Linked DNA regions of Homo sapiens: regions 1, 2 and 3 are each reported to be linked to region 4. Evidence: microRNA targets listed by miRTarBase, many of them from high-throughput screens and not tested one by one. Region 4 holds a microRNA gene; each other region holds the end of a gene's coding sequence.

Region 1 (8,137 bases), not on the chromosome of region 4:
TCCCTGCCCCGGCCTATCTTGGGTACCATCCTTCTCTTGCCAACCTAGGAACTAAGCAGGTGAACCCAACCTGGCCGTCATTCTCGGGATCCATTTCCTCCTGGGATATTTGGGGATGTGTATGCCCAGGCCCTTCCTTCCTTGGTGGCAATGGAGCCTAGCCATTAGGGCCAGCGGGAGTCTGTGACCCAGGTACTGGCACCCAAAGTGACTTTGCCCTGCTTCCTGCCATCTTGTTAAAGAAAAGGTAGCCAGGATTCCCTAGGAAATAAGCTGTGGAGAAACCACTCAGCAACTGCAGACAGGGGTCTGTGGCCAGTTCAGGGTCTGAGGGCCAGTGAAGGTGGGTGCAGGCAGGCTGAAAGGACACCAGCACAGCCCTCGGGGTGGGGGCTTGTCACTGGTGTCTGGTCTCCCTGCTTTTCCCATGTGGCCTGGGCTCCATGATACGTTCTCCAGGCCTGGGCCTGGAAAACAGGTCTTTCCTGTTCTCTGGACCTGCTAGAAAGCTTCAGTCAGTTTGGTCCCTGGGAGAGAAAACGCTCTTCCCATGACGGCTCTGTGGAGGCCAGGAATGGGGTAGGTGGGTTGACTGGGAGTACTCCTTCCTGCCGCCCTGGTCAAGGGACTAGTGTGAGTCGGGAGTGCATTTTTGGAATGGGGGCAGGGGTGTTTTTCATGACCATTTATTTGAGTGGTTTTGATTGGTTATGCATACTCTTTAAATTTGAATCCAAATTTTTTGCAAAATTACTTCCCAATCAGATCTTGACCCTTAGCCTGGGACACCACAAACTGAGGTGAATTCTCTGCTTTGCTCGTCACAAATGCCAAACTGACTGCCCTTTCACGGTGTCCATCTTGCTGTCTTTTGCTTCTGTTTGATTTGGTCTGCATATCTTTTAATGTGTCTGTTTTTGTTTTGTTTGTTTTATTTTTATTTTTCAGTTAACGCACGCACAGACTTACATGTCAAGAGTGGACTTTAGACTTTCATGTGTTAAGTTGCTTGAGTTACACCTTGTGACCCTTCTCCCATAACATGGTGTGAGGACGGACTGGGAGCCGGTACAGACTCCAGTGTTTACAGCCTTGCTTTCCTCCCACCGACCCTGGCCCCAGGCTGCCCCGGGCCTGGCGGGCCACCCCTCTCTATGCAAACACGTAAAAGCCATGAATGCTGGAATCCAAAACTGACGAGGTTTATTTTTTTCAGAGCCAGTGGCTGGTCTTCCATTTACAGTGTCACTATTCCCTGACGGAGCTGTTATGTGCCGCTCTAGCGAAGGCCCCAGCCGGGATGCTAGGCCTAATTGTTCAGCGTGGAGATGGCAACTCACGTGGTGCCCTAGGTGCAGCTGCGTGGTCTGGTATACATGCTGCAAAATTCACCCAGTTCCCCTCATTTTAATTTTTCTAACCTACAGCTTAATTTTAATAACTTTAAAACACTTCTAAATATTTATTTTGGCACCAGCGTCAAGACAAATAATATCCTCTCCCATTATTTTCATAAGTAACACAGATTCCCTGATTTTTAAAAACTAAAAATACAGCTAAACCTTTCTTATGTATAAAGTATGCCTATCATATACAGGGAGAGGTGGGTAATAAACTTCCTGTAATGACAGTGTTTGGCATTTCTTTATGGATGGAATTGGAACATGAACAAGACCATGTCCAGCGTTTTTACTGTGAATGTAAATGGAACAGCAGCCCAAAGCTGTTGTCTGTGCCCCAGAGGTGCTACCTGTAGACAGGGACCAACTCCATGTGTGTGTGTTAAGTGTTTGACTCCAATTAAGACTCCCAAGCAAATCCTGCATATTCCAAATGTAAAGAGTACTCAGTGGGAAAAAGGTTGTTACCTCAAAGTCATTGCTTCTTTCCTGGCTGGGTCACAGGGTGAAGAGATGAAGGTGTCTGATGTATATAGACAATTAGGGAAAAATGAGCGGCAAAGGAGCTTTCCCCTTCAGCTGCACTCTAAAGGGGAACATTTTAAGGAAGTACTAGCAGCTTTGACTCTTCTATGCTCCTGTTGGTTTACAAGCCACCAAGAATGTCAGTGTTGAGAATACGGCCTGGTAAAATGGGAGATGTAAAATGACTAAATGAAAGGAAGGGTAGTTTTAATGTTGAAGCACCGTGCTGGGCACTGGAGCTACCCAGAGGAATGCACAACGCTCCCCTCAAGGAGCTCACAGTCTAGCCTACTCCCTGGCTGGAAGCCTCAGGAAGACGTGCTAATTTATTGTGGAATTGGTAGTTTGCTTTTCATGCCCCTGTCTTCCTTCTCATGACCATTTCCCCCTTTCTGTCTGGCTTGCATTATTGATTTCCAGGACCAAGTCCTGGCTTCCTCCTGCCTTCCTGAGATGATGTTCTGCTCAGGGAGAAGTGGAGGGGTGAGCTGTGTGTGTCCACCGAGGCACGGCCAGGAAGAGGCAGCCTTTACCTGTGAGGGGCTCCATGCTCCAGCAGCAGAGCAGGTTCTAGTGACAATTCAACTTTTTATGCTATGACCAGGGGTGGATCTAAATTTTATGGGGCTGAAAGCTTGAATTATTTAGAAAGACTTCTTTAAGAAAAACAATGTTAATATAAAATTAGGTACAGGGTCTTGGAAGGGGCCCTGAAGATTAAGCTTCCTTAGCGTCACAATAAGTCCGTATCTGGTTGCAATTGAAAACTGATGCTTCAGTGAGGGTATCTAAAAAGGTAAACTGGCATATCCAGGGCAAATGTGGGCTGCCAATGGCTCATCTCTAGGGTAATTTTATGTCTGAAAGTGTATGCAGTTGGGTCAGAGCATGACCTTTAAGATAGCCTCTCTCAGCTAACATATTTATGAAGATGAGGCCTGGTGACCCAGCAGGTTCATTGGATACATAAGAAATGAGAATTCCTGGTTCATGGGCCAACCTAGGACTCTGGAGTATGCAGACTTGGCCATTCGTCCATTGTGGCCTGCGGGTCGCACCCCAGGCATACTGAAAGGCCATACTCGTGGCTGGCTGCCTGCGGGCCTAAGCCTTCCCAGGATCTTCAGGACACTTGACAGACTTGTGTTTTCTGGTCTGAGCTGCCTCCACAGGTCCCTCCAGCAAGCCTCACTGCACCTCTCCCCTGCTGTTTGTGTTTGGAATTTTGTCTTCTTTAGCTGAGACCAAATTAAACCTTGGTGCATAAAGTGAGCTTAAAACTTGCCACTGTTTAGTAAGTTAGCCCCCATAGAATGTGACCCTGTCTGCAGAGTCTCATTTACCCCTCTTTTTCTCATTGTCATTTGTTGGCTTTATTAGGGCTGTCTTACAGGATCATGTTGGCATTTACTATCATGTCTTTATCATAAACCATGTTTGTTTGAGGTAGAAGAATCACCATATAATTCGTTGCCCAAATTGGGACTATTGAGAGAGAAAGGGGATGCTATTAATTACACCAGATCAAAAGGCATAAACCAGACCTGTCCCAGGCCGATGTGGAAATATGTTCTTTCTAGTTGTGGGTACCCTGATCTAGGTGGTTTGTAATTGTGCATTACTGACTGCATATGTTTGTGTATGTGTAAATGTGGGCTCCCTGTTAAGTGGGGCTCATGGATACGAGGCCTGAGGAAGTGTGGCTTGCTAGTCTGTTACGTTAACATGCTTTTCTAAAATTGCTTCACGTGTTAATTCATTTACTCCTGCATTCATTGACTGTTTTTGTTCTTTTCCATTCACTTTGTACTTATTTTTTTCATTAAATTTTGCATTTATTTTGAGTTTTTGTGGTGTCTTTTTTGGGCAGTAGCTTTTCTGATTTAACGTTTCCTGAGCCCATTAATCTGCTACAACTGTGGTAAAATACAGCTTGTCTGTTCTTTGAATTTTGTGGAGGTTGATCTACTTCTGTAGGAATTGTTTTAATAGGAAACCCTGCTACAGACATCTGTGAAAGGCTCTTGCATAGGTGGGGGATGGAGGGAAGAGTCACAGGAAAGTTACAGGAAGGTAAAGGGGCAGCCTGTGGTCCATGAATCTTTATTGGTTAACTGGGTGCAGGACATGAGAAAAGGGGCACCTGCCCTTGAGGAGTGTTCCTCCTTAACACAAAGGCTTGCCACGGGACTACTAATATTCGAGTGCCAGGACTGCTCGGAACCATATTACATGCATTAACTCCTCTAATCCTCATCCTAATCCTATGATTAGGGACCATTCATCCCCATTTTATAGCTGAAGCACAGAGGTTTAAGTAATTACCCAAGGTTACATGGCAAGTAACTGGAGAAGTTGAGATTTGAACGCTGGTAGTCTGTACCCTTAAATCCTGAGCTACACCTGCTCCTTGGCATCTCAATGGAATGATGGAAGAGTAGTGAAAGTGTGGCTAGTGTTAAAGTACACAGCCTGATGGTGTGGGCTGGTGGACCTGAGACTGTTTTTTAGAGGTAGAAAGCCCTAGGGGACAGGCAAAAGTGGCTGAGGAAGAGCAGACTGGTGAAAAGAAGTGATAAAAAGTATGTGGGTTTGTTTTTTAAGGAGCTTTCTCCATTGAGCACTAGGTAGGTTTGGGAAGACCAAAATGAGAAAATGGGGACCCCTGCAGGGAGAGTGGTATGAACACATCCCTAATGCAGGCATAGCTCAGCTCTACTTGTGCAGGCAGCAGGGAGGCAAAGTAAAGTATTCACCAAGCTTTGAAGGACAGAGACTCTCCAGGAAGCCAGGGGGAGGAGGGCCTCCTAGGTGGTGGAAACATCATCAAATGACTTGGCTCATTCATTTCAGGGAAGTACTGTTTGGACAAGTTTAAGACAGGTCTATGATGCTCCCCCTGCCCTGTTCCTCCCTGAGCCCACCTACCTTTCTTTCTGCCATAGCATCTGCCTCTGAGCTTTTTCCATCTCCATTTTCTTCAGCCTCATTCCTTCACCAATCCCTGCCTTTCAATAGCTGGGGTCAAAAGGAAAATAGATTGTATCCATATTTCTCCCTGAGAAATGTTTCCCAATCTCTGAGTTGAGGTGGGATAGGAGTTCCTAATGTCAGAAAAGAATATTAGAGGGAAGTAGGATGGGACCTGGGGCCCCACGGCAAGCTTGAAAAGCACATAAGATTTTTAAAAATCCACGAGTGGGACTTCGGCAATACAAAAGTGAGCTTCCCTATAGAAGAGTTCTATCATTTATAGAAAGCCAGAGCAGAAGGTTGTCTCTTACCCCAGTCCTAGGACTCACATGTCTACCCTCTGCTTTCTCCAAGAGGTTTGAGTTGGATCAGCTCTCAGAATCCAGCTCACATCCATAGCCACCTGGTTAAGCAGCAGATGTCTTCCAGCAGTTCCCCTAAAGCCTGGGATGCCTAAACTGGTATGGGCCCTCAGGATGTCCTTCTGCCTCATGCACTGTGGTCCCACTTACACTGGAAGGAAGGAGGCAGAGGGCACTCAACGGCCACCACTGGAAGCTGTGAGCAGCATGGCCTCAGCATCTCCATCTGTAAAATGGGTTCTGGACTAGAGGAGAGTTCTTGATATGACCTAGGAGATAGTGTTCCAAATGTATCTGACTCTCGCAAGGCTAAATGCATGGTAGCTCAAAATAAGACTCATACAGGATCGGAAGCAATTAAAGTGTAATTTTAACGAAAGCACCAACAAGCAAAAGTGTGTCAAGAAAAAATACAGATGTATACTAACTCTATAATATAGACAATTATAGTATATCTGGCCCTTGACCACTTTGCACCTAGTAAATCTTTCCCCTCCCACCCCATGGCTTAGCACATTTACACAAACACACCAAAAAAAAAAAAAAAAAAAAAAAACCATAGTTCACAGTGGAAGACTTCACAAACCACCTCTGAATGTGTGGCTCAGTCATTCATGCCCCCAACACAACTTACACAGCCCCAGCTGGCATCTTTGTCAGCTGCACTCCCCTGCTTAGAGAATGGCTCTGTGGTAGCACAGCATGAGAGAGGCAGCCGGCTCCTCCTCCTGGCAGCACTGTGGTTGGAGCAGGCTTGGCCTCAGAACCTGCTCATCCCAACAGAAAGCATTCAGAGCTGTGCCTCCCATCACAGGTGTTAGCCTATAATACCCATTCATTAGCACAAAATCCCTCTAGTTAAACTAATAACTGAAACCACTTTGCTTAAGAGTAACAAAGGAAAGATATGCCTAAAGCTTGCTCAAGTTACATTAAACAAAGCATACTTTATAATCCAGTCCTTGTAAAGGGAAGACATAAGTCATAGCCATGGTTGGGTAAATGCATCTGCAGAGACTGTCCCATGTGAGGAGTGGCAGGCAGGGTAGTTGGGACTGGAAGCACCACATATGTGTTTGGGATAAGCCTGGGAAGTTGGAAGGACCTGGCCAGCTCTGGCAGGTAGAGCAGCAAGAACTGGTCAGAGCTAGCCCCAGCCCTTCAGCCCTGAGCCAGGCCTGCCTCTTGGTTTCATATTCCAGCGCTCCCAGGGGCCAATGCCAACCCTTGCTGGAGAAGGAAGGTAAAACAAGCTGCCATTTGAACATTCATTCATACTCCCTGGCTTCAGGCCCAGAGGAGAAAAAGGGAAGACAGGGTCATAGTCTATCAGACCACCCTGACCTCTACTGACCTCAGCCTGCCTTTCCCCTCTCCCCTTTATTTTTTTTCCAAGGGCTCAGTTGGGAACTTTTTCTCAGTTGCTCTTCCAGAGCCACCTTCCCTTTTTACAGGATTCATAACAAGCCAAAGAACTCATGGTAGTCCAAGCAAGGAGGTTTCACACTATGCTCTGAAAGCCCCGGGGTGGAGGCAGAGGGGCTAGTTGGCAGGTGACACAAAGTTGTCTGTGCAGGAGGATGACTGAAGACTTCTCAGTTGCTGCATTACAAGTTCCTTGCAGCAGCTGTACTGCATATCACCAACCTGTATTAGAATAGAGTGGCCATCTTCAAGCAGAACCATCATACATTCTAAGAAATTGGCAATTGAGTGCCAAAATGTTAGCATGAAGCAAGTTCAGGAAGGTCCAACCACCCAACTAAGGACCACTAATCCTACCATCTCAGGGACATCCATTTCCAACCTCAGTAAAGTTGTCATTAGTCTAACTATGCATTCCATCCTAACCTATCTGTTCTGAGGGATTCTGACACACCCCTCTCCTCCTTGTGCCCCCACAATGCTTGCCTCATGGTACCCCTGTACCTGGTACCACACACTCATACAAAGGAGAGGTGAAGGAGTTTAGAATTTATGCTCCTCAGTATTAAGCTCAGGGTTGCTTCCTCCTAAGCCAGACATACCCCTGACTCCCCACAGTCCTCTTGGCTACAAGGGCTCCCATTGAGATAAAGATTCTCTCACTCTCAGAGACCACCCCCATTGGTCCAGTGAAGGGAACACATGTCCCATCTCAAGTGCATAGAGCGTGACCAAGTGTGGAAAGCCTAGCCTTTGGGCAGACTCTTTCCAGGGTTATGGCCAGAACATTTTCCAGAGGCTACAAGGGCAAAGGGTACCCCTTTGGGGTCAGAGTGTGTCAGCTAAAGGGGCAAAACACAGAGCCTGGTCTGGGGCAAAGTTGATGTCTACCTGTGCTTTCTTTAGCAGATCAGATATAGGAGCACACCAGCCGGGCATGAGCCTCTCCAGCTCTAAGGTGATGATGACCAAGGCCAGTGTGGAGCCCTTGAACTGCAGCAGCTGGTGGCCCGCCATACAGTGCTGCAGCTGCCTGGTCAGGGATGCGACGTGGAGGGAAGGATTCCTCTGAGGCAGCAGCTCCAACACATGGGGCCAGCTCAGGACCACCAGGGCATGGAACTGGAGACCATGGTTTTTAATGTTAGAACAGAAAACGCCATACTTTTCCTATATCAATGATCAAAAGTGCAAACAATTTAAATTTCCATCAGGGAACATCAAATGTTGCCCAACCCTTTTCATTCCTATCCATGGCTCCGTAAGGGGCTTGAGGCTTAATGCCCATCCTGTGGCCAAGCTGAGCTTCCACTCCGGGACCAAAAAAAAAAAAAAGTCTGCTTTGTGACATCATCGTTATGAGCGGAAAGTACCTAGATGACAATGTTTCCATTCTGAAAAATAGAAACATACTATTCAAGACCAAGGTAGCAGAAAAGTTACTTGTATCTG
Region 2 (8,213 bases), not on the chromosome of region 4:
CGGCCCCACTGCTGTCTTGGACCTTTCTTTTCTTTTACTCCTTTACATGTCAGTTCACTCACTTGATATTTATTGTATGCCCAGCATGTGCCAGGCACTGTGAGTACCAATATAGTAAGTGCCTCTGGGGAGGGGATACACCTCTCTCCCTCCATGAAGCCACTTGCACTGTGAGTACCAATATGGTAAGTGCCTCTGGGGAGGGGATACGCCTCTCTCCCTCCATGAAGCCACTTGCACTGTGAGTACCAATATGGTAAGTGCCTCTGGGGAGGGGATACGCCTCTCTCCCTCCATGAAGCCACTTGCACTGTGAGTACCAATATAGTAAGTGCCTCTGGGGAGGGGATACGCCTCTCTCCCTCCATGAAGCCACTTGCCCTTTCTGGTACTTAGCATGTTGCCCGCCCTCAGCCAGGCCTGTGTATAATAAGGTCAGTTGGCCTCAGTTACTAAGCAGTAGCTGTGCATATTGTTCTGGTCATATGTCCCTGTAGAATGTGGTTTGTAGAGCACGGGGTTGTGAATAAGAACTGACTGTGAGGCCTAGCCATACAATTTGTAGTTTGCATGCCCCCCACCCCAGGAAGGTTACCCTCCAGACCTCAGAGGCCTCACCTCTTCAGCAGATACTACAGTCCCTGAGAAGACGATCAATGCGAGACCATGCTGTAAGCTGAAAGGGTTGTATAGATGTTAAAAATACATACATAATTTTTGTTTTTTAATAATAGAATTTTGATCTCTGGTGGTAGAATTACTCAGGTTCAGAATCCTTGGCTCCAGAAGTCTCCCTTGGCAATCTCTAAAAATATACCCCAAACAAACAACCCATAGAGAATCAGAAGGGAAACAGGAAGCCTCCTCCTCTGGAAGGAGAAAGAATCCGCAGCTTAATCGCTATTGCAGAGCGGGAAACAGGGCAGGGAGCAGGAGACTTGAGTTTAGCTTTGGGAAGATGAATGAATGAATAAATGAACCATTATCAGCTGCCAACCGTGTGCCAGGCACTGTTAGAAGCAGAATAGTAATTTGTTTAGTCCTCACCAAAACCCTATGAAGTAAGGTGGTATTTTTACCATTTGACAAGTAAGGAAATAGGACTAATTAGTTGGAGGAGTTAGAATTCAAATTCAGACCATCTGGCCTGAAAGCCTTGCTCTTAATCACTATGTATATTGCCTGTAAATAGTATAGTTTATAATGATTAATTGTCCTTTTCCTTTCTGTTGCAGGAAGGAGTTTTTTGATGGCTGCAAAGCAATAAGTGCAGACAGCATTGACGGAATCTGTGCACGGTTCCCTAGCCTCTTAACAGAAGCCAAACAAGAGGATAAATTCAAGGATCTCTACCGGTTTACATTTCAGTTTGGCCTGGACTCTGAAGAAGGGCAGCGGTCACTGCATCGGGAAATAGCCATTGCCCTGTGGAAACTAGTCTTTACCCAGAACAATCCTCCGGTATTGGACCAATGGCTAAACTTCCTAACAGAGAACCCCTCGGGGATCAAGGGCATCTCCCGGGACACTTGGAACATGTTCCTTAACTTCACTCAGGTGATTGGCCCTGACCTCAGCAACTACAGTGAAGATGAGGCCTGGCCAAGTCTCTTTGACACCTTTGTGGAGTGGGAAATGGAGCGAAGGAAAAGAGAAGGGGAAGGGAGAGGTGCACTCAGCTCAGGGCCTGAGGGCTTGTGTCCCGAGGAGCAGACTTAGTGGCTCTGTCCCAGGAGCAGCAGCAAGGATCTGCCAGCTGCCCTGCAGCCAACTGAGGAATTGGACCATTTTGGAAATTACTGAAGATCCGGATATTTTCTACTTTACACCTTTCTCTGCCTTGTATCTGAAAGGGCTCTAAAATGCTGTATCATGTTTTAGGCACTTTCTTCATTTTTTTGGTTATTTTGGTTATTTCCTTTTTGGGGGGATCTCCCAGAATATTTGAACCTGGTTACATGTTGTGTATCTTTTTTTGAAGCCTTCAGATAGAATAAGCCTGCCATTTCTTGCACAAATTTAGGTTTTTTTTTTGTTTTTTTTTGTTTTTTTTTTTTTTTTTTTGGTAGGGGAGGGCATAGAGCAGGGCGGGGGGATGGGACTGTTAGGTTGAATTAACATTACAAAATGATACAGTGCCAGATCTCAGTTTCGCATATTGTTTTTCAGGGCAGGTCTGTACTGTGTGTAGTGCTGTTTACATAGATGAATTTAGGTTGTAATAATTATTTTTAAAGATTTACACAGATTTGAATAGCAGTGTTAACTGTTAACCACATTGCATTAATTCCCAGGCGATTTAGAGCTCTTGGAGAGCCAAGGCCAGCCAAGAGCATTTGTAGTCTGGTGACAACCCCCTTTTAAGCTAATTTATCCAGAACCCTGATTTCCCTCACTTCTTGCTCATTCCTTCTTTGACCTATTGCATTTCATGTTGAGTTTTTCCATCAACATGCTGCACCTGTCAGTCAAGTGAGCATTTTTTAAGAACACATTGTACTGAGAACCACTTAAGCATTGAATGCGGAGAAAGCAGTGCTACCTCAGTTTTGCTGGAAGTAGACTTCTTTGATAGTTTTCTTTCTTTGATGAAGTTTCTGTATTTTCATGTTGTAAGTGGAAATACTTTTTTTTGTTTGTTTGTTTCATTTGCCTTGGAGCCAAAGTTTCTGTTCCTGGTGGTCGGGAAACTGCCTGCCGGCCAACTGACTTGAAGGAAAACTGTGGTATGGAGCTCTGCTTGAATTTTTTTTTTTTTAATATTTTTATTTTTTTCTTTGAATATCATCAGCTTACTTGTCTGGCAAGGGCAGAAGCCTGGGGTTGGCCTGAACTCTGCCAAACAAATATCAAAGTGTATTTAATAGTTAAATTTGTGCCCTTTCCCTTCTTGCTGCACCCATGTTGTCACTTAACCCCCAGGAGTTATTTATTATCTTTTTGTTAAAGTCAGGCTCATTTGGGGTAATGTGATGACTGTTTAGGTTTACATGACCCTCCTCTCCTTTCCCTACCCCCAAATATGTATATATACATATATAAAATATGTATATATTTTACCTATATAAAATATATATATATACACATATATGTATCTATATTCCTTTGTTTCTTTGCCTGCTTATACTGGCCATAAAAGAGGGAGCTGCCTTCAATGTATAAAGTATAAGAAGAGTGCCAGGGAATGCCATAATGGAGGCTTTTGGATCTGAATTTGGACCATTTCACTAAAGAGAACATGAGTTTGCTCAGCCCTTTCCTCACAAGAGGGAGGGCCCCGGTTCCCCAGACTTCTCCACGCGCTGGCTCCATAAAGGCCAGCTTTGGCCAGGCTGCCACAGGGGCCTGAGGAGCTCACTCTGGGCCTACCTGGTTTCAGTTAGAGGGTCCTCCTGTTATTTTTCCATTTAAAAAGTATGTCCTCAGAAAACTGTACTGGAAGGATGGGTGGCAGGAACTTGTATAGTTCAGCTTCCAACACTTTGGAACAGATTAAAAAGGGAATCTTTTAAATAAAAACGTATAAAAATATTTATACTCTTGAGGTAATGAGACTTTGTCTGTTAAACATTTGGAGGTTTCTCCCTTAACCTAATACCCCGCTGCGTCCCAGGTATGTTTCTCAGCCTGGGCAGGAATTGCATGTTTTGAGTTCCATTGTGAGCAGCCTTACAGCTCTGGGCTCCCATCTTAAGGATTATTAAAGAGTTTTGGCAGTTGGTATTTTTCTAAAACTGATATTGACCATAGGGAACATACTTGGAATTTGTTTTTTTTTTTAAATCCTAAACCTGACAGTTCCTCCTTCAGAGGGGCAAATGGGAAACTTTAAGATCACCCACGGTATAGTACTGCTAGAAAGCTGAAGGGGGTCTTGGGCCAGATGCCTGGCTTCTGTTCTAGCTAAATAAGACTCTTGAATAAGTCTCCAGGGGTCCCAGCAGGTTCTGTGGGATCAGTTGTAGCTGGGTACCCAGACTGAGGTTTTAAAAAGACTGCTTTTTCATTAAGCCAGTTTGCAACTCATTTTCCCCGGTTCTGGATTGGGTAGTGGTTGACTGAGGGAAAAGCCAGGCTGCTCTTGGCCAGATAAGGCCCTTTCCATCCCAGATCAGAGTGTATCAGAGAAAGCTGCACAAAAGAGGCAGGCAGCCCAGGACCCTGAGTACTCTGGAGAAACTAGGTTCCTTCCCCACCCTTTAAGAAGACATTCCGTGCATTAGATGTACTAGAGTGGATGTATTTTGTTGTTTTTTAAATTAACTATTTAGCCTCCTCATCCCCCACCAAAAAAGCCATTTAGTTATTTTTTGGTTATATTGATCCATTTGCAAATGAGAAGCCAGAAAAGGGAGCAGTCAGGGAGGGACTTACAAGTTCCTTTCAAGTTTGAGTACTTGATGCTCAGCAAAGATTTCAAGCTTCTGCAGTAGCTCTGGGCCAATGCTTGACTCTTTCATGACCACAAGAAATGCAGTTTTTCTGCAAAGGGATCCAAGGTGAGGTGTGTGTAGGGTTTGAAGTTATACTTCTGGGAAGTGAAAAGTCTTGTTCCTTTCAACCTAGAAATAGGTTTGCCACTTAATGAGTGAGCAGTAAGTCTGTGTAAGAGGCTGAATGCATGCCCCTCAGATAAGCCAGTACACTCCTTGCTTAGCAACAGAACATCAGGGTGATGTGGAGAGGGGCAGGATGTGGACGCCACTTTGGAAATCGGCAACATCTGAGGGCAACAACAAACAAGTGTGTTGGGAAATAAGAAATAACTCAGTTTTGACAACTGGCTTTGTCAGCTTTTGTGATGTTTCTTTAGCAGTTTATTGGAAAGATGGTATGAGATGACGTGCTGCTTCATTGAATTGCTCTTTCCCCCATCTTTGCCAAATCTCAATGTATCGTTCTTAACCCCACCTCCTGTAAGGGGCTTTGCTATGCTTCAGCTGGTTGTCTCAGCAGCTGAAGTGCTGCCCACCTGTGTGAGTTGGGTCCAGGAAACCATGTCTGCCCTTCTGATAAGGGAAGATGAATCTAGAGCTGGGTGAAGATCTAAATTTTAACCAAACCCCTGGGCCCAGGAAAATAACAATTGAAAATGTACAAGGCAGTGTTTTCAATATTAAACTTCCCCAAGGAAAGCACAAACTAGTCTTTTTGGAAAGGGAGAAAGGATTAAGCCACACAGTATTAGTCTTTGAAGCAGTACTGGTCTCTAGGGGCTGGTGCCAAAATGGAGTCCCATAGTAGTTACACTCGATGGCCTCATGTACTATATACTGTGCCAAATTGTATTAAACAGTGGTGGGGAGTTACTGGGATAAGAACTTGTCTAAAAGTTTACAAACCAAAACAGATCTGTTAGGTTGGTGCAAAAGTAAGTTTTTGCCATACTTAATGTATTGCCATTAAGTATGGCAAAAACCACAATTACTTTTACACCAACCTATGTATTTAAGAATGTTTGGTTTGCCAGATTCCAAATGAGGTCTTCAGTGCAGCAAAGCCCAAAAGGTGTAGACTCAGTTATGCAATTATAAGGTTAAGGCGTAGAAGAAAGCTGCTGCTAGGTTTTTGTTGCATTTTACTTGACTGCTCTGCTGTTTTTCTTGTCTCTCATGTTTGGTTAGCTATGACTTGAGCATCTTGGTAACTGACAAAGGTCTTCCTTGGGGGACTTGAACATCTTGGTAAATGACAGGTCTTCTTGGAGGACTCCAGCAGTATCTTGTTTAAACGACTGAAAGGACTATTAAGGTTGTTGAATTGTGTTAATTGGGACTCATTGAGGAAATGCGACATTGATCCTCCTCTTATTCCACAGTGTGTTTTCTGATCATATAAAGAAGGTTCCGAACCATCCATCCCCCTCAGAGTTTATTCCCCTGGTAAGCTGTAATTGCATATCCAGTTTAAACTGGACTGGGACTGCATGTTGGTGAGGATCGGCAGGGGTTTTCCCCCTTTTCGAAAGATGAAATAGATTCTTGAGCACTGGTTGCAGAAGCCAAAATAGTTCAAATAGCTTTGCATAACCATTGGGTTCTGCTTCTGATTCAGGTGCTGGGCATCATGTCCTCCCTATTCTTCTCTTCTTGGAAACCCAGCCTATCTCATAAATACCTACTTCCGCCACCCATCCAACCTCCCTGCTCCTTTCAACACAAATCTTGGATATTGCCAAAGGAAGCCATTCAGCAGCTGCTGGGGTTTTTCATCCCCCTGACATGCATACATTTGCTCTGGGAGAAGTGTCTTCCCTCTGACCCTGGTCCCCAGCTCCGTCTGTGCTTAATTGCTCTTACCTGTTGCACTAATGAATATGACTAGGTTTTAAAGGGGGAATGTGAAGCAATAGGCACATGGGGCTTGGATGAATTGGTCCCACAGATATACCCTGCCTTAAGCCGCTGAGGTGATGAGTCCACTGCTCATGTGACCCTCCACCTTTGTGGATCCCTCTTGGTTTGTGACCAGTGTGTCTGTTTGTTGAGGTTGTACAAACTTGACAAAAGTTAATACTTTTGTTTGTATTTTCTGCACTGTTGCACTCTCCAAATGGCCCCTTGAGTATTTTTATTGACTTGTTACACACATTTTTGTCTTTGATGTCTACATTTTTTCCTTTAATGTTTTTTATTTGGAAGGTTACCTGCTGTTGGATTTAATAAATTTGTTTACTTGAATATTGATATTTCTACAAAAAAAAAAAAACAGTGACTTTATTCTGGGGCAAAATTTACCCACTGGGAGCTTCTACCAACATGATATTGAGTAACAATTTTTATTCTTTGAAAAACAATCCAGATAAGTACAGGATCCTCAGACTCCAAACATGGGTGTTGACCTCCCACATACCAAGCTTAGTAGGGTGGCTTTTGGGGGTCTCAGTGCTTAGAGGCAAAGAGCAAATAAGTCTTCACAGGGCCACTGCCTAAATAGTCTTACCTTTGCAACTGATGTGAATTCTCATGAGGAATAAAAAGTGAAGTTGAGCAGTATGTTAAATGCATGACCCCTAGATTTAACAGTATGGCAGTGCATTAAGGCAAAGGAAACAAGCTGTATCTGGCTTTAACTGTCAAATGCCACTGCTATGTGACCTTCGGCAAGTTAGTGAACCTCTAAGTTTCCTTTTACTCATCTGCAAAATTAAAAGACTCTTGGTTCCATCAGAGTGCTAGGATTTAAAAGTCTTGATAAAGTCCCAATGACACATAAGTGCTCAAACATTACAAGCTCTTTTAAGGTTCTCCAAAGGAATGCTAGGTGAGTAATGCAGGGAAACCAGAGAATAAGAGAGGGGGTTGGCATGGTCATACATGACCTTTCACAAGTCACAGCCCCTCTTAGGGGCTTAATTTCCCTCTGTGCCAAATTGGGGATGGGGGAAGAAGCTCAGACTAACGTGATCCCTGGGATTCCCATCTGCCTCTTAACACTCTAGATGTATGATGATTAGACCACTTACGACCCTTAGCTTCCTTCCATTGTATTTTCTGTCTAGTTATTGTTTACATTCAGGAAAGCTCTTGACTGGCCATCTTACACATTTCTTTCATGGAGACCCTGATGGCCTCCCCAAAGATTCCCAGCCTCATGTTGGTATCTTGTAAAAATAAGTAAGTATGGTGGTGGGAGTAGGTGTACTTTTTCTTTTCTGTTGCAAAGGCTCTGGAAGTCATGTCTACATTCTCTGATTAGGGAGAGGTTTCTGAGATTTCCTCAATGAACTGCAACTCTTTTTCTCTTCCTCATTACTAAGGACAGGACCAGGTGGGGGCAGGAAGGAAATCTTAAGGGATGATGTTTTCCTCACTTAAAAAGTATGCCTCTAAAACATTCCCCAGTTGGCTCTTTTGGGCTTGTTTCTTCTGTGCTTTGGCACTTCTGAGTTATGGAGCCCAGCCAGAGCCTTACAAATAGGTTTGGGGAATAAAGTGGAAGGATACTGATTTGGGGGCTTGTATAGAGCCTGGGCTATTCAAAGTGCTGTCACAGGCTGTATAGATTATATACAGCTAAAATCTAATTTTCAATTAGATGATGGACAAACAACTTCACTTAGTTACCAGATGAGCTTAACTGCACGTGGAATGCTTTCTAGCAAGAAAGGTGCACTGAAGGTAGTGCTGAGGATCTGAGGAGTACGGAAGAGTTGCAACACTGGCTTCTTCCCTCCTTTCAAATCAGTTGCTGAAGCACATGGCTGGATTGGC
Region 3 (8,213 bases), not on the chromosome of region 4:
GCTATCATGAATCTCCTTAGTATTAGGCAATATGTTAGTAACACAATAGTGAGCAAGCATTCTGTATCCACATAGCTTGTAGGGAATATCCTGGTTCAATGACATAATTTGTCTTAAACTTTATTATTTTTTAATTTCTGAAGTAAATGTGCTCTGCATAATAAATTCAAGGAAAACAAATAGGCATAAAGGAAAAGGTGAATTTCCCCATTTCCTTTCTCCTGGATACCAGGCTCTAGAGGTGTGGAGTTTATAGCTTGGTATGTATCCTTCTCCTCACATCTAGGTGCATATAAGTTTATGCAGCCTGTGCTGGAACTTGTCTTTTTTTTTTTTTTTTTTAACCTAACAATAGGCATTTATGCAGCATATAATGAAGTTTCAGTCAGTGACAGACACAGACTGCATATATGACAGTGGTCACGTAAGATTATAATGTATTTTTACTGCCTTTTCTATGTTTAGATACACTTAAATACACAAATACTTAACTATTGTGTTACAATTACCTATGGTATTCAGTACAATAACGTGCTGTGCGGGTGTGTAGCCTAGGAGCCGTAGGCTAGATAATGCAGCCTAGATGTATATATAGTAGGCTATACCATCGACATTCGTGTAAGATATGCTATGATGTTCCCATGATGGCAAAACTGCCAAGTGTGTGATGCATTTCTCAGAACATATCCCTGTCATTAAGAGATGCGTGACTATATTGGATACCCTATTAGATACCTGTCTAAATGTAATTTTTTTTTTTTTTAAATGAGATGGGGTTTCGCTCTGTTGCCCAGGCTGGAGTGCAGTAGCACGATCATAGCTCACTGCATCTTCAGATCTCCTGGGCTCAAGTCATCCTCCCACCTCAGCCTCCTGAGTAACTGGTACTACAAGCGTATGCCACTATACCCAGCTTATATTTTTTATTTCTATTAAAAAATATTTTTAAGTTACTTATTTTAGAGACAAGGTCTCGCTATGTTACCGAGGCTGGCCTTGAATTCCTGGCCTCAAGCGATCCTCCTGCCTGAGCTTTCAGAGTTACTGGGATTACAGGCATGAGCCATCATGCCTGGCTCTAACTCGTTTTCAATGACAGAATATATATTCTATTTTGTTCCTATATCATATTTTATTTAACTCATTTTCCTCTTGATGGGGACTTGTTAAATAGTTTATTGTTTTACTTATGTTTGTATTTTGAGGAATAGATTCTTTAGAAGTGACATTCATGGTTCACTTGTTGGTTGTGCATTTTGATGGATACGCAAAAAGTGGGGAAGTTACACCATTTGCTAAGAACTTAAATACCTTTTCTTCTTTTCTTTTTTTTTAATCATCTTAGCAAGTCTGGAAAAGTTTGAAATTCCAGTAAAAATTCGTTTGAGTCCTGAACCGTGGACCCCTGAAACTGGTCTGGTGACAGATGCCTTCAAGCTGAAACGCAAAGAGCTTAAAACACATTACCAGGCGGACATTGAGCGAATGTATGGAAGAAAATAATTATTCTCTTCTGGCATCAGTTTGCTACAGTGAGCTCAGATCAAATAGGAAAATACTTGAAATGCATGTCTCAAGCTGCAAGGCAAACTCCATTCCTCATATTAAACTATTACTTCTCATGACGTCACCATTTTTAACTGACAGGATTAGTAAAACATTAAGACAGCAAACTTGTGTCTGTCTCTTCTTTCATTTTCCCCGCCACCAACTTACTTTACCACCTATGACTGTACTTGTCAGTATGAGAATTTTTCTGAATCATATTGGGGAAGCAGTGATTTTAAAACCTCAAGTTTTTAAACATGATTTATATGTTCTGTATAATGTTCAGTTTGTAACTTTTTAAAAGTTTGGATGTATAGAGGGATAAATAGGAAATATAAGAATTGGTTATTTGGGGGCTTTTTTACTTACTGTATTTAAAAATACAAGGGTATTGATATGAAATTATGTAAATTTCAAATGCTTATGAATCAAATCATTGTTGAACAAAAGATTTGTTGCTGTGTAATTATTGTCTTGTATGCATTTGAGAGAAATAAATATACCCATACTTATGTTTTAAGAAGTTGAGATCTTGTGAATATATGCCTGTCAGTGTCTTCTTTATATATTTATTTTTTATTAGAAAAAATGAAGTTTGGTTGGTGATGCATGAAACAAAATAGCAAGAGAGGGTTATAGTTTAATAGTAAGGGAGATAACACAGCATGTGTAGCACCAGTTGATAATTGGTCTCTAGTAGCTTACTGTCAAAATGTTCAATGAAGTCTTCTGTTCATCTGTTGAAACTAGGAAAATACCCAAACTTAAATGGAAGAATTCTGAAAGAGAGGATAGAATTTAAAGAACAAGAGTATATAAAGTTATTCTTTGAATATTTCGTTGACTATATGTACATTGAGTTATCTATATTTGTAAACAAATTAGTCATGGAAAATTATTCTATCTCAAAGTCTCCTTTTAGTCTAGATAATCATTATTTCATTTTAAAATTAGTGTTTTTCCTAGTTTGCACTGATGCGTGTATGGATGTGTGTGAGTCAGTGGTAGCTTATTTAAAAAGCACCTTATCCTTTCTCCCATAACCTTTGTACACTAAAAAATGAAAGAATTTAGAATGTATTTGATGATAGCATTCTCACTAAGACACATGAGAATTTAACTTTATAACCGCGTGAGTTAAGATTTAATTCATAGGTTTTGATGTCATTGTTGAAGTTATTTGTAATTCAGAAACCTTGCTTGTGTGATACATAGTCTCTTCATTTATTACTGCTTGTCTGTTGTTATATCTGGATTATCAAAAGCAATAGTGCACCAATTAAGATGTGCTCAAATCAGGACTTAAATCATAGGCACCACATTTTTCATGTCAGACTAGTTACTTTGTTGATTCTCAGTTACTGTAGGCATCAAAAGGCAAAAATCAAAAAAAAAAAAAACAAAAACAAAAAAAAAGATGAACCTAGGTCTGTGTAAAGTAAGGGGAGTGTTAGGAGCAGCCAGGACTGTGTAGTGTGTGTTTGGTTGCATCACAAACATCGTATGTGGAGACATTGCAATACAGTGTTTTTTGTTTTCAACTTTTCTTGTATTGTATATTTGTATTATGTTTTGAATGCTTTTCTCTTTTCATAATTAAATATTAATGTTTGGGATAACTGCCAAGAAGAAGTAAAAATATTGAATGGAACTTCTATATGAGGATGCTGTGATCTAAAAATTAAATCTCAGTGGGCGGAGAGAATTTGTTTCTGATGCCTTGTCTTTAGAATAATTGTTTGCTTTCAGATGATTAAAAAAAGGAGATTGTATCTAGGAAAAAAGTGTGAATGCTTCAAAGGAGAGATACTGATAATTGTGACTTGAAATAGTGTCAGATGAATTATGTAGCTGATCACTGATGGAACCATCTAATGAGGCAGGCTTAAACTCTATTTAGTTTCGTTTGTTTTCTCATATGAAGTTTATAATTCCTTTCAGTCCTAAAATGTCAGATGCCAGGTGTCAAATGCCACAGTAGAAAGTGAAATTAAGTAGAGTCCCCTTTTAAACAAATTTGTCTGTAAGCAAAACTATCTTTAGTGACTTAAAAAATAATATCCTCTAAAATTACCCTTTCAAGAGGAAAAAACTGTTCAATGAAAAAACCACTCAATTATGACTCATATAAGAAATACTGGTTTAACCAGGAGATATTTGGGGAGCAAAATTTTAAGGAATTTCAAATTGCTAAATCTAATACAAATATCTGACAATAAGATACAGATCTAAAAGAATGGTTCTTAAGAACTATTGTTTACTGGGAATAAACTAAGCTCTATGAAGAATTCGTAAGCATTACATGTTCCAGTAAGTTTAGCAACTTAGAGCCAAGACTGGTGGCCACCTCCATTTATTTCCCCACTGCTCCTCCACTGACATCCTTCTTAGCAGAAACTTCATGAAAAAGTTTTTGCTGACACAGAACAAACCTGAAAGTAGTATCTACTTTCTAAATACTACTTTGCTTTTCAGTAGTGGATTTGATATTTATAATGTTCTCTAAAGCTTGCAACTTTTTCAGCAACGTTTAAAAATAGATTAACCTGGAATAACTTACTTGTTTGCTGCTAAAATACTCAAGATTTTGCCATTTTTAAACAACCAGTCCCTGTGATACAACTTTGAAAAAACTTTTAAAAATCTCTGATGTGTGGGCTCTTTTTTTCCCATAAGAATTATGTACATCTGTGATGTTTTACAGGGGGATCCGCTTTTAAACAGTGTACATATTGGACCACACTGAAATGTCATATATCCTTTCTCTACTTAAAATTGGTTATTTACTGTGAGTTCATTTCCGATGTGTTCTTGGTTGTTGCTGTTTTCTGCCTGAAGACGTGTATCATAAAGAGCTACATGGTATGGACTATTTATTTGTAATTTGACATAAAGTTTGAAGAATAAAGATCTATAAAAGTTGAAGTTTCTGATATTAAAGCTCTTAATATATTGGCTTTTTTTTTTTTTTTTTTTGGTTTTGGTTTTTAAGAAAAGCTGTTCCTGTAAAAGTGAAACTTTCATTGACATTCCTGAAATACTTGAAGAAGGAGTTTGGGGAATTTTCCATCCTGACCTAACAACCTAACCAAAGGAAAACTTTTTATTCTAGAAATTCTGTTAATAATCTATTTCCTAGCCTTTTTATATTCTAACTTTCCCCTAACCCTTCCCGAATTCCTCCTTTCCATTCCTCCTTTTTGGTTCTGACTGCCCAGAAGATATACTGTCAGCATTTTAAATTCCAAAATATTCATACAGCATAAAATCTTGAATAGAGGTGGTAAATTGAAATTTGGCATCAAAATTAATGGGGTAGAATCTACAATGTGGCAGAAATATCTAAACTTTGTGCCAACATTTAATCCAATAATTGTGGGAGGAAGAGTTGTATCATGCTGTGTTTCAGAAACTAACCTCCCTCACCCACCCCATCTTTGACTGCCAGTCAATATTTGTGGGTATATGTAACTTTATCATAGCATACTTTTGTCTCTGTGTGTAATCCTGTAACAAAACCAGTTAAAGCTTTCTTTACATAAACATTTGGCATCTTTGTGTGTTTTGCATTAACTTAGACAGTTGTGCCTAATTTCTCCTCATTAACTTTGCTCAGGTTATTCTTTTAAACATTGGTAACAATATTTCTACCACACCAAATATGCAAATGATTTTAGGATGAGGCTGGTCTATAGTGTCATGGAATGGTTTTTATGGCATAACGTGAAACCGGTTATATGCAGATCTATAGTCTGATTTATGTAATAACATTATCTTCAATCTGATAAAATCTGCCTCTGATTTCCTCCTAATTAGTTGGTCCACATGCAAGCATATAGTCTGCAAGGGCCTGTCCATTTCAGAATCGCCTCTGTAAACCAGATGCCTTAACATGGTGCATGCATGGCCCCCAGAGGAGGTGTTCAGTAACTGGTTTTGAGTGAATTTGAAGTGTTAACGAAATTATTATAACAGTGCATACGTATCCTCTAATGTTACATGCCTATTTCTGGTTTGGATTTTCCAAAATGCTTTTCAGCAAACCCTTCCCCATTAGTGTCTTTATTTAGTGATTTTGAATTGTGTTCCCTTTGGTGGGATTCATTCAAAAGCAACTTCCTGCATTTGGTGATTTTTTTCTTAGATTCATTCTCATTTGTTTCTGAAGAAAGGTTGTTCTGTGTGGGTTTTTTGTTCTATAAAAAAGTGACTTTTCTGCGTGGATTACTTTTATAGAAACAAGGTTTGTCTCCCATATGAATGTTTTGATGCTGAAAGTTTTTCCATGTTAGTGCACTTACAGTTTTTCTCTCTGGAATGTACCCTCTCATGTTGAGAGAGCGAAGAGCTATAGCTACAGGTTTTCCCACACCGTCTGCCTTTGTAGGTTTCTTCCCAGTGTGAGTTCTTTCGTGTTTAATCCAGGCGAGCTACAAGGGAAAAATTCTCCACATTGACCACATTTGTGGAGTTTCTCCAGTATTAATTCTTTACTGGTTACTAAACGACGCTTTTTGCTTAAGATTTCCCCTCCTTCTTTATATTCGTAGGTTTTTGGTTTTTTAACTTACATGAACTCTCACATGTTGAACAAAGGAGGAGCAGTCTTTAGAGATTTTAGATACTTTATGTTCACAGGATTTCTCACCTGTATGATTTTTCTCATGTTGATTAAGGCAGTAGTTCTCAAACTTTCTGGTTTCAGGACCTCTTTATGTTCTGAAATAAATTATTGAGAACTCCAGAATGTTTGTTTATGTGGCTTATATCTATCAGTATTTCTTTGTAAAGGGTTTGTATTTTATCATGAAACATGTAGAAGTAAATCATTCACTTTGATTTTTCTTCATGACCATAATCATATTAAGAATACAAAAGGTATAAGAGAGTGGCACAGGATGAGGGTTTATTAGGAGGGCTGTATGTATGCCTTCCCCACCCCTGACTCCCAAGAAAAAAGATTATAGCTATCAGAAGAACATAGCTTTGCAAGATTTGTTCTGTGATAAAGGCAAAATTCCACATTTTTCCTCAAAATAGAAATGAAAAACAACTATGTTGTCCAAATAATTTGATGCCCCAACTTTCAAAATGTTTATGTATAGAAGCCTATAGCTCCAACGCGCTGCCTAGCCCTGCCACTTTGTCAACCCCATGGCCATATTCTGGGCCCTGTTATCGCTCAGAAGGCCCTTGTCTGGAATCTGGGAAAAGGAGGATGTTGAAGACTTAAAAGTCCTAATGCCTTTAATGGGGGCCTGGAAGGATGGGGCTTCAGGCCTGGCGGGAAAGGAATGGTGTTGTGTGGGAAGGTGCTCACATATAAAACATCCAGCTCTAACAACCCAGCAATGTGCTGTCCTCAAAGCTCCCAACCCCGCTGTGAGTCACCCCATCTGAGGACCTCCATGAGTGGCCAGGGCACAGTCCCTTATTCTGCTAGATGCTCTGCCTGCCCTGTATAATACCTCTCTGCTCAGCCTTAGCACTAACGCCATCCTCACTCCAGTCCTCTCTTGGTTTGAATGTTTTGGATGTCTTGAGAGCATTGGGGCAAGAACTCCGAGAATTTTTTTTCTGTTTTCTTTTTTTTTTTTTTGAGACAGTGTCTCACTCTGTGGCCGAGACTGGAGTACAGTGGTACGATCTCAGCTCACTACAACCTCCATCTCCCGGTTCAAGTGATTCTCCTGCCTCAGCCTCCTGAGTAGCTGGGATTACAGGCACCTGCCACCACACCCAGCTAATGTTATATTTTTAGTAGAGACGGGATTTCACCATGTTAGCTAGGCTGTTCTCGAACTCCGGACCTCAGGTGATCCACCCGCCTTGGCCTCCCAAAGTGCTGGGATTACAGGCGTGAGCCACCGCTCCCGGCCTTAGAATTCTTTTAAACGTTTCCACAAATGTAAGAAAAGATGGCTTTTTGGTAGCCATGGTCAAAAATAGCCACCCAAATCTGTTTTTACCCTGTTCAGCACATCAGCAGTTCACCTCATGTAGGAAAGTGAGATGCACCAGAGGCTTAAAAAAGTTCCTATGGTTTGCCCACTAATTCCACATCTAGGAATCTGACCTTAGAAAATACTCAAGAGACGCGGGTTGAGATTTCTTCAGGAAGACCTTCATTGTGAAGTTGTTTATAGCAATCCATCAATTGGAAACAAGTGCACTAAAGTAAGATATCAGGTAAATATTAGACACTATCCACTTGATCATAGAGGCACAAAAAATGTTTATACAGCTTTTTATATTGTGAGGAGGACTTCATACTATGAATTTTATGGGGGAAGAAAGTAGGAATCAAAATTTAGTAGGCACTTTATGTCATAATGTGTGTGTGTGTGTGTTGTGTATATATTTCATAGAGAAAAGTCTAGAAAGAAATGTGCAATCATTGGCCAAAAATTGTAATTGACATTTTTCTCTTCATACTTTCAAAATTCTTTACATTGGCTTTACTTACTCCTACAATAAAAAGTCAAGCTTGTGTAAAGAAGCCTAGCTTAAAATATGGACCATAAGCTTTAAAATTTTTTATCTTAGCAAAATTATCAATTGTTAAGAAAAAATATTTGAAGCTATCTTAAGTGTTCTAGTAAAGAAGAAACTAGAAACCCTTTTATTTTCTAATCCCATTCATATTTATATATTTTTTGAAAGCT
Region 4 (8,213 bases):
ACTGTTCTTGTGATAGTGAATAAGTCTCACAAGATCTGATGGTTTCATAAAGGGGAGTTCCCCTGCACACGCTCTCTCTTGCCTGCCACCATTAAGACATGACTTTGCTTCTCCTTTGCCTTCTGCCATGATTGTGAGGTTTCCCTGGCCATGTGGAACTGTGAGTCCATTGAGCCTCTTTCCTTGATAAATTACCCAGTCTCATGTATGTCATTATTAGCAGTGCGAGAATGGACTAATACACCCCATCTCTACAAAAAGTTAGCCAGGTGTGGTGGTGCACGCCTGTAGTCCCAGCTACTCAGGAGGCTGAGATGAGCCTGGCAATTGCTTGAGTCTGGGAATTTGAGGCTGCAGTGAGCCATGATGACACAACTGCATTCCAGCCTGGGTAACAGAGCAAAAAAATAAAAAATAAAAAGGTAGGAACTATTTTATTATTAACAGAGTCTGTCTTATTCTGCTGTTGTTGACATTTTACAGATCCTTTATTGCCAACTATCTGCATAACTAGATTTTAAGTTCCTTGTATGCAGAAGTCATGTATTATTTTTTAAAATTTTCCTTATATTGATCTGTTTTTTTTTAATAGTAAAGATTGTTGAATCTGAACATTAGATGACAATGTATTTGTCCAGCATTTCTCCATTTGAAATTATCTCACATTATTATGTGAGACTTGTTCATGTGCTTTGCTGGAGTTGAGACTTAGACAGTCTGTGTTTTTTTATTTAGCAAAGATAATCCAAGTTAAAATAGTGTTGTGTGTTCCTATAGGAAAACTAGGCCCAGTGTTATAACAGAGTGTAAGTAATAATAGCCACTAGGAGGTAAGTACCTGCTCTGTGCCAGGAGCTATGCTTCAGATTTGAGATGTTTTTATTTAATTGTCACACTGATTTTATTACATAGGGAACATTTAATAGGAGAACAAAGCTTAGGTAGGTTCAGTAATGTGTCCAAGTTCACACAGCAAATAAGTGGCAGAGTGAACTTGAACTTTGATTCTCTCTGAATCAGAACCTATTCCTTTATATGCTCTGTTGTATCCCTAGCCTGAGATCCACTAAGCAACTTTTTGAAGATGAGTACTACTGATTTCTTATATCCAACATGTATACATTGTCCAATGAAATTCTGCTAAAACATGGGAAATATAGGTCAGCACAATTACCAGTCATGCAAAATTGTATTTAATATCATAATTTGTAATGGTGAGGGGTGCTTCTTTGGGACATAGAATTTACAATGGCAATTTATTGACATATTTATTATTAACATTATTATATTTACATTCTCTAGGTACCCACATTTCACTCCTAGACACTTTTGCATAATCTCAATAACATCATAACATCTATAAATATTAACACTAATCCTGTAACATCACCTAACTTTTACCCGTATTCAGATTTCCCCACTTGTCACAAGAGTGTCTTTTGTTAAAAAACCCGGATCTAATCAAGTTTCACTCATTGTATTCGTTGCTATGTTTTTTTGTTTTAATTTTGATGGGCATCTTTCAGAAGTTTTAAAATAGTCTTAGAACCTCTTTTTAAGAACCAGATTTGAATAATTTATTTTATTGACCTCCTTGTCACTCTAACATTTCTTTAGTAAATACAGGCTTTGAGGGTAGGTATTGGTTTCTCTGTTTAAAAGTAGAAACTTTGCATAAATCAGCCCTTATATGTGTAAGTTTTCTGCCTTTTGGTTTCTTCTCATGCTGTTTCTGCACAAGTGCCTAAGCTTTTTTGAAGCTTTACTTGAGGGGTGACCAGAAGGTTTTACTTAAGGACACAGACCCTTAAATTCTGCAATGACAAATCTCAACTTCCATCTCAGGGTTGTAAGTGAAACCAGGATGCAGCCGTTTCTCTTTTCTCAGATAAGTTCAGGTTTGAATATAAAGTGTGACTATAAGATACAGAGACTGTCCCTAGAAAAGGAGGGGAAAACATTTTAGCAGTTCCTCTTTGGAGATAACTTTCAGTGCCTGCCCATCAGCCTCCAAGGAAAATGCTTTTTGGTTACTTTATAGGTTCTAGTGAACTTTGCTTACTTTACAATGTTCCCCAAAATGTCTGTTGAGATTAGTGCCTGAATTTCCACTGGGCTGACCAGTCTGTAGTTTCTTGAACATTTTCTTCCTATGCCAGTTAAAAATTAGAAGAAAATTGAAGTTTAACATACACATTCAGAAAAAAATAAAAAATCAGATTAATAAGAAACTAATGAGGCTGTGCCATTGTAAACTACTTGCAATAGAGTTTCCCAACGATGAACTGAGTATCTAGAAAATAACAAGGATTCTCAAGGAATTTTAGTGAAATGATCAGTACTGTATTGAAATACCTTGAATCAGACTTTGGAGAATAGATTTAAAAACACTCACAGCCTTAACCGATCTAGTAAGAACCTTATTCCCTAAAGCATACTGTGGATCTCAGCTGTATCCTATCTAAGGTGAGAACAGTCAAAGACAAATGTGGCCTTTGAGAAAGGTGGGATGTGAGTGTCTTGAAACAACAGGCTAAAGAAGTGCTCTCAAATAGAAGTATAATATGGAACATGTGAAATTAATTTTAATAATATATTTTAGTTAACCTAATATATCCATAATATTTTCATTTCGACATGTATTAGGTTGGTGCAAAAGTTATTGTGGTTTTTGCTATTTTTTTTTAATGGCAAAAACCGGCAATTACTTTTGCACTAACCTAGTAGTTACTACAAAAAAATATTAACAAGAGATTTTATGTTCCACTTTTTAATACCAGGTCTTCAGATTCTGGTGTGTATTTGATACTCAGAACACATCTCCATTTGAACTAACCATATTTCAGGTTCTCACTAGCCACTTGTAGCTGGTAGCTACTTTGATGGATTGCATAGGTCTAAAGGGAAACATCTTGAGAAAGAAGAAATAGGTTAAGTGCAAGAACAAGAATTAAAAAGGAAACTATTTTAGCATCATATTAGAAGGAAAGTACAGAAAGAAGTTGATTTAGAGAACCAACATCTTAATTCTTGATGAACTTATCGAGGAGGCAGATTGACAGCTGAGAGCAAGGTCCGGGAACCTTGCTCTGGCCTTGGGGACCGAGGGTTTGTAACCGTTGGGAGACAGGTGGCTGCAGTTTCAGTATGAAGTAGATGAGGGCAGGGAAACTGGTGGTGGTGTGGCTGAAATCAGTAAATCTCTGTCTTAAGGAAATAAGAGAAGTCACTAACTGGGACCGGCTAAGGGTGGAATCGATCAGGAAAAAAGAGGAATGGCCCCAACCAAGGCATCTGATGTTCTGGCCAACAGTGCAGGCTCTGGGGCCGACTGCCTGTGTCTGGACACCAGCTCTGCCCCTTGCTAGCTGAGTGAATGCAGTCAGCTGACCCTCTCAGTCCATTTCTTCATCTGTAGCCTGGTGCTTCGGAATCTTTGACCTTCTCTATCAACCAAGTGTCCAGCGGAGCAAACCACCTTACTTTGATAGGCGTGTTCTCAAGAAATAACTCCTTTCTCACTCTCACCCCAGATGTTCTTAGGCTCGCTCCCCTGCTTTTCTGGACTCTGCTCAGATGCCAACTTATGACTGCCCCCCATGCCATCCAACTCCTTTCCTTACCAGTACTCCTCAGCCCCCACACTCTGCTTTATTTTTCTCTATAGCACTTAACATCATCCAACATCATCCAAATAAAAGATATTTACTTTTTCATTTATTATGTTCTTCCCTCCACTGAAAAATAGACTCCAAGAGGGCTGGGATTTTGTCTGTTTTGTTCATTGCTATATCCTGCCTGCTTATTTCAGTGTCTGGCACATAGGCAGGACTCCATGAACATTTGATGAACAAATAAATGAATAATAAGAACTACCTCAGAGTTGAGTTGAGGATTAAATGAGTTAATACACAAACAGCTCTTGGAACAAGTGCTTGTCACATAGTAAGCCTGCAGTGAATCTTCGTGCTGCTGCTACTGTTAAATATTATTACTGAGGCTGAGCTGGCCTAGGGCTCCTTGGATTGGACTTGCTAAGAGCTAGGCAAGAGTCACAACTGTATGAAACTTGATTGAGTTAAAACAAACAGTGCTACTCCTCTTTATTATCTCCATGCCTGGTAAGCACATTTTCTACCCCCAAAATTGGGACTGACTAATATGAGAATATTTATGGCCTTAATAGGACAGGTTATTTGATACAATTACTAGCCTAGACATTTTAGGAGATTGGCCGCTCCTCAATACTATAAATGCATATATGGGTGTGTAGATAGAGATGTTGCTTCCCAGATTGCCACACATCCTGATACTGCAAGTAGGCATCAACTGAAAATGTGCCGTGATGTGAAGACCAAACGCAGAGAAGTGAGAGGGACAAGGCTGTGCTCAGTGACCCATATCCAGATGAGAAATCCATCTGCTCACTTGGGAGCAAAAATGCCCCAAGACCCTGCTATCTCTGGGCTTGCACGAGGCTTTAAATGAATCACCATTATGATGTCTTATATTCAGAGGGAAATACCAATATTCATATATTCAGGTACTGAAACTTTTAAGGGAATTTTTCTTTTTTCTTTCTTTTTTTTTTTTTTTTGGTCAAATGAACTTTTACTTTACCTGCTAAAATCTGCAGGCAGTGTGAGCCTTAAAATATTTTAGAGAGAGAGAGAGAAGTATCTTAAAATTACATTGTTTATTTCTAAGAACAAACTCAAGAAAACCCTTTCCTTCAAATCCCGGAAGAGTGATTAGCTTGTCTCTAAGGTATGGCATTGGCTGGGCATGGTGGCTCATGCTTGTAATCTCAGCACTTCAGAAGGCCCAGGGAGGAGGATCACTTGAGCCCACGAGTTTGAGATCAGCCTGAGCAACATAGTGAGACCTTGTTTCTACAAAAAATATAAAAATTAGCTGGGCGTGGTGGCATGCAACTGTAGTTCTAGCTACTTGGGAGGCTGAGGCAGAAGGATCACTTGAGCCCAGGAGGTTGAAGCTACAGTGAGCCACGATTGCACCACTGCACACCAACCTGGGTGACAGAATGAGACCCTGTCTCCAAAAAGAAAAAGGAAGGAAGGAAGGAAGGGGAGGGAAGGAGGGAGAGAGAGAGGGAAAGAAAGAGAAAAATAAAAAGAAAGAAAAGAAAGAAATGACATCAGTGAACCTCCTCAAACCATAGCGAGGCTGTTAAGTTTGATTGGGGCTGACATCCATGAGTGGGTACAAGTTTATCTGGTGTGGTGCCCTGCATCCTATAACACTTAGTTGGTAAAATCTACTTAAACTTGAGAGGGAACATCTCAAAAGGGACAGCTGTGGAGTTGGGAAGGTGGAGCCCGCAGGTCCTCCCATCTTGCTTTGGTGATGAGGCAGAAAGTGGGGCTGAAAAACTGAGTCTGTTTTGGTTGTATATGAGGGCTCCTGAGCCATTTTATTTTTAAGCTCCAGTTAAACTTCTTTCTCCATCTCTCCTTACGAAGTCCTCCTTCTTCAGCCAGGTTCCACAGCAATTTGGGATTTCACAAAGCCCAGGGTTTGGGGTGACTGTCAAATTTTGCTATTCTGTCAGGAAGCCTTATCTTTTGAACTACATTTAAGTTGTATTTTAATCATTTTAGTTAATTCATTCAACAGATATTTATTGAAAGTCCATATGCCAGACATATGGGGATACAGCCAAAAACAGGAACACCTTTGTCCTTGTCCTGATAGGGCTAGCCTGGCTGGGGTTACCCCTAAGCTCAGATTTGAATTAGTTGCCAACTTTCAAGAACAGGAATTTTCACACAAAATGTGAATATCTGGCTTTTTTTGAAAAATTGGGAACCTGGCAATGGTGGGCCTCTGTTTCCACATGGCAGGAGCTGAGGCACAGCTCCTGTTTCCACATGGCAGGCCCCTCCCTGTAGGCTCACTGGTGCGCAAGTCCTCACCAGTCCCTTCTGACTCACACTTGGCCCGCTGGTATCTCCTCTGTGGGTGGAATTGCTGGTCTTCGTCTAATGCGTCATTTGCCACAGTTCTGTTTCTTTGTGACTCCTTTGTTTGCTCGTTTTCTTTTTATTGTTTCTGGTCTGGCTTTTTCTTCCTTGACTGGAGTCTTGCTCTCTGAGGCCCTCTTCAGCTCTAGCATTCGATGATTTGGAAACCACAGAGCTTAGTGCCTCACCTGTAGGTTTGGAGGTGTGCTTAACTCAGTTTGACTTTCTCATTTGCAACATCTGCTGTTCCAATGCTGTCTATAGATTGTATCCTGAGAAACCCTGCATCATGTCACTATCTTTAAGAGCCTTATGCCATGTAGCAAGCTAAATAAGAAACAATGGTTAAGAGCACTGATTCTGCAGTCAGATTGTCCAGGTTCAAATCTGGCTTCATTACTTAACATTGTTGTGCCTCAGTTTCCTCACCTGCAAAATAATAAGGTTAGAAATAAAACCTTCTTAATATGTTTTTAGGATTCTGATTTTTTTTTTTTTTTTTTTTTTTTTTCTGAGATGGAGTCTTGCTCTGTCACCCAGGCTGGAGTGCAGTGGCACAGTCTTGGCCACTGCAACCTCCACCTCCCGGGTTCAAGCGATTCTCCTGCCTCAGCCTCCCATGTAACTGGGATTACAGGCGAGTGCCACCACGCCCAGCTAATTTTGTATTTTTAGTAGAGACGGGGTTTCACCATGTTGGCCAGGCTGGTCTGGAACTCCTGACCTCAAGTGATCCACCTGCCTTGGCCTCCCAAAGTGCTGGGATTACAGGCATGAGCCACTGCTCCCAGTGGTGAGTACCTATTTATAGAGCCCTTGCAACAGTGCCTGGCACAGAGCCAGGGCCATACAAGTGTTAGATTAAGTAAAAAAAAAAAGTACCAGTCAATCTGAATCTCAGGCCCTGAGTAATAATTTGCAGAGGAATTTGTGCTGGGGGTTGAGAGTTCCTTTTCATTAACCCATAGTTAACGGTGACCAGATTTTCTAAATAAGAAATCAGGATACTTCATCTATAAAACTTGGGTTCCAGTTACAACTTCAGGCCATACAAAAAGAACTATTAAAATTGAGGTGTTGATGTTTTGTAGAAACACTGCAACAGAATATTTGAGATCAGACCTGTTTTTAGATATGTGATCACTCTATACATGTAGTGCTGATTAGGTATTAGGTACCCTCATATCTTTATTTAAAAAAAATTCAAAATTCTTCAAAACAAAAAAACCTTCAAAAATTATCTGGCTAGCATAGAAAATCTTTTTAGGCGATCACTGATAAAATTTTTTCCCTCCCTCCATCTCTCTTTGCTTTTAAACAGCAAAAACTCACCCCATGCCCAGTTCTCACCCAGTTAATTCAGACAGTGTGAATACCTTGATGTTGACCTAACTCATTAAAAGAAAAAGAGAGAAAACCTTTGAAAGCCTATTCCATGTCAACCAGTGTAAAAAGACTCTCAATTTTATTCAAACCTGAAAACAATCTTTTATGGTGGGCATTATGATTTCTACTTCACAGCTGAGGAGATCTAGTGTGGGGAGGCCTTTGGGAGTTCACCCTGGGCCTTGCTGGCTTCAAAATCTGGGCACTCTCTGTTCTGCACTCTGGCATGGTTATTAGCGTCCCTACAGTCCCTTTTCTGACCACTCAGTGGTATCAGCAAAGCAACAAACTCACTGTTGACACCATTCCTTTGCTCCTATTTGTGTATTCATTCATTCATTCATTCATTCGTTCATCCATGGTTTGTGACCTTTGAGAAAAAACTCACTCCCCTTTCTTCTATTGTTCTTTTGTTCATTAGAAATTATCTTAGCAACTTACTTTAGTGTTGGCCTTGGAAGTGCAACAGAAAAGACTTTACTGTAGGAAGGAAATAATAGATATACCCATGCACACAAAGTAGAGGTAGATATTAGTTTTAGAGACAGTTCTTAACAACTCCTCCTCTTGGTTGAATAATTCTATTTAAAAAAAATTTACATAGTTTTAATATTATAATAGTAATAGGATATTTGTCTTCAAAAGTAACATATTTTTCAATGTGACCTGTATTAAGTAATAAGTAATAAATTGAAATCTCACCATCACCACAATCTCTAAAGTAACCGTGGTTACTTTAAAAACAACCACTGTTAATCATTTAGGGTGTCTCTTTCCAGTCTAAAAAAAGAGCAAGTGAGAATGCATGTACACATGTATTCATGTCTTTTTATAGTTAAAATA

The links. Region 4 holds the annotated microRNA hsa-miR-548ac (CAAAAACCGGCAAUUACUUUUG, at 2,692-2,713, shown strand). A microRNA usually pairs through its seed, bases 2 to 8, with sites in the 3' UTR of a target mRNA and lowers its output. Matches are read on the target gene's strand: a 7mer-m8 pairs with bases 2 to 8, a 7mer-A1 pairs with bases 2 to 7 and ends in A, and an 8mer does both.
Region 1: miRTarBase lists CCNI2 as a target of hsa-miR-548ac. Seed matches in the 3' UTR shown: 7mer-m8 at 5,812-5,818.
Region 2: miRTarBase lists DCUN1D3 as a target of hsa-miR-548ac. Seed matches in the 3' UTR shown: 7mer-m8 at 2,023-2,029, 7mer-m8 at 5,564-5,570 and 7mer-m8 at 6,203-6,209.
Region 3: miRTarBase lists ACSL3 as a target of hsa-miR-548ac. Seed matches in the 3' UTR shown: 7mer-A1 at 1,796-1,802.

The regions. Positions count from the first base shown.
Region 1 is chr5:132,751,636-132,759,772 of GRCh38, reverse strand. CCNI2 (cyclin I family member 2) reads right to left here. Exons shown (of 6, transcript NM_001039780.4): 5 at 7,577-7,807; 6 at 5,370-6,907. The coding sequence ends at 6,803. SEPTIN8 (septin 8) reads left to right here. Exons shown (of 10, transcript NM_001098811.2): 10 at 7,592-8,137. The coding sequence ends at 7,757. Among named protein-coding and RNA genes, the nearest start is that of CCNI2, 8.3 kb to the right of the region's middle. RefSeq lists an enhancer at 7,923-8,132.
Region 2 is chr16:20,853,392-20,861,604 of GRCh38, reverse strand. It overlaps DCUN1D3 (defective in cullin neddylation 1 domain containing 3), which reads left to right. Exons shown (of 3, transcript NM_173475.4): 3 at 1,236-6,680. The coding sequence ends at 1,719. Among named protein-coding and RNA genes, the nearest start is that of DCUN1D3, 43 kb to the left of the region's middle.
Region 3 is chr2:222,940,152-222,948,364 of GRCh38, forward strand. It overlaps ACSL3 (acyl-CoA synthetase long chain family member 3), which reads left to right. Exons shown (of 17, transcript NM_004457.5): 17 at 1,346-4,488. The coding sequence ends at 1,503. It also overlaps the pseudogene LOC100419511. Among named protein-coding and RNA genes, the nearest start is that of ACSL3-AS1, 25 kb to the left of the region's middle. RefSeq lists a silencer at 3,871-4,020.
Region 4 is chr1:116,554,538-116,562,750 of GRCh38, reverse strand. MIR548AC (microRNA 548ac) reads left to right here and starts at 2,640; the gene lies at 2,640-2,727. All of the region lies in intron 1 of CD58 (CD58 molecule), which reads left to right. LOC105378925 (a long non-coding RNA gene) reads right to left here. Exons shown (of 3, transcript XR_947739.2): 3 at 1,564-8,213. RefSeq lists enhancers at 84-233, 2,833-3,072, 4,124-4,173, 5,850-6,144, 5,918-6,167.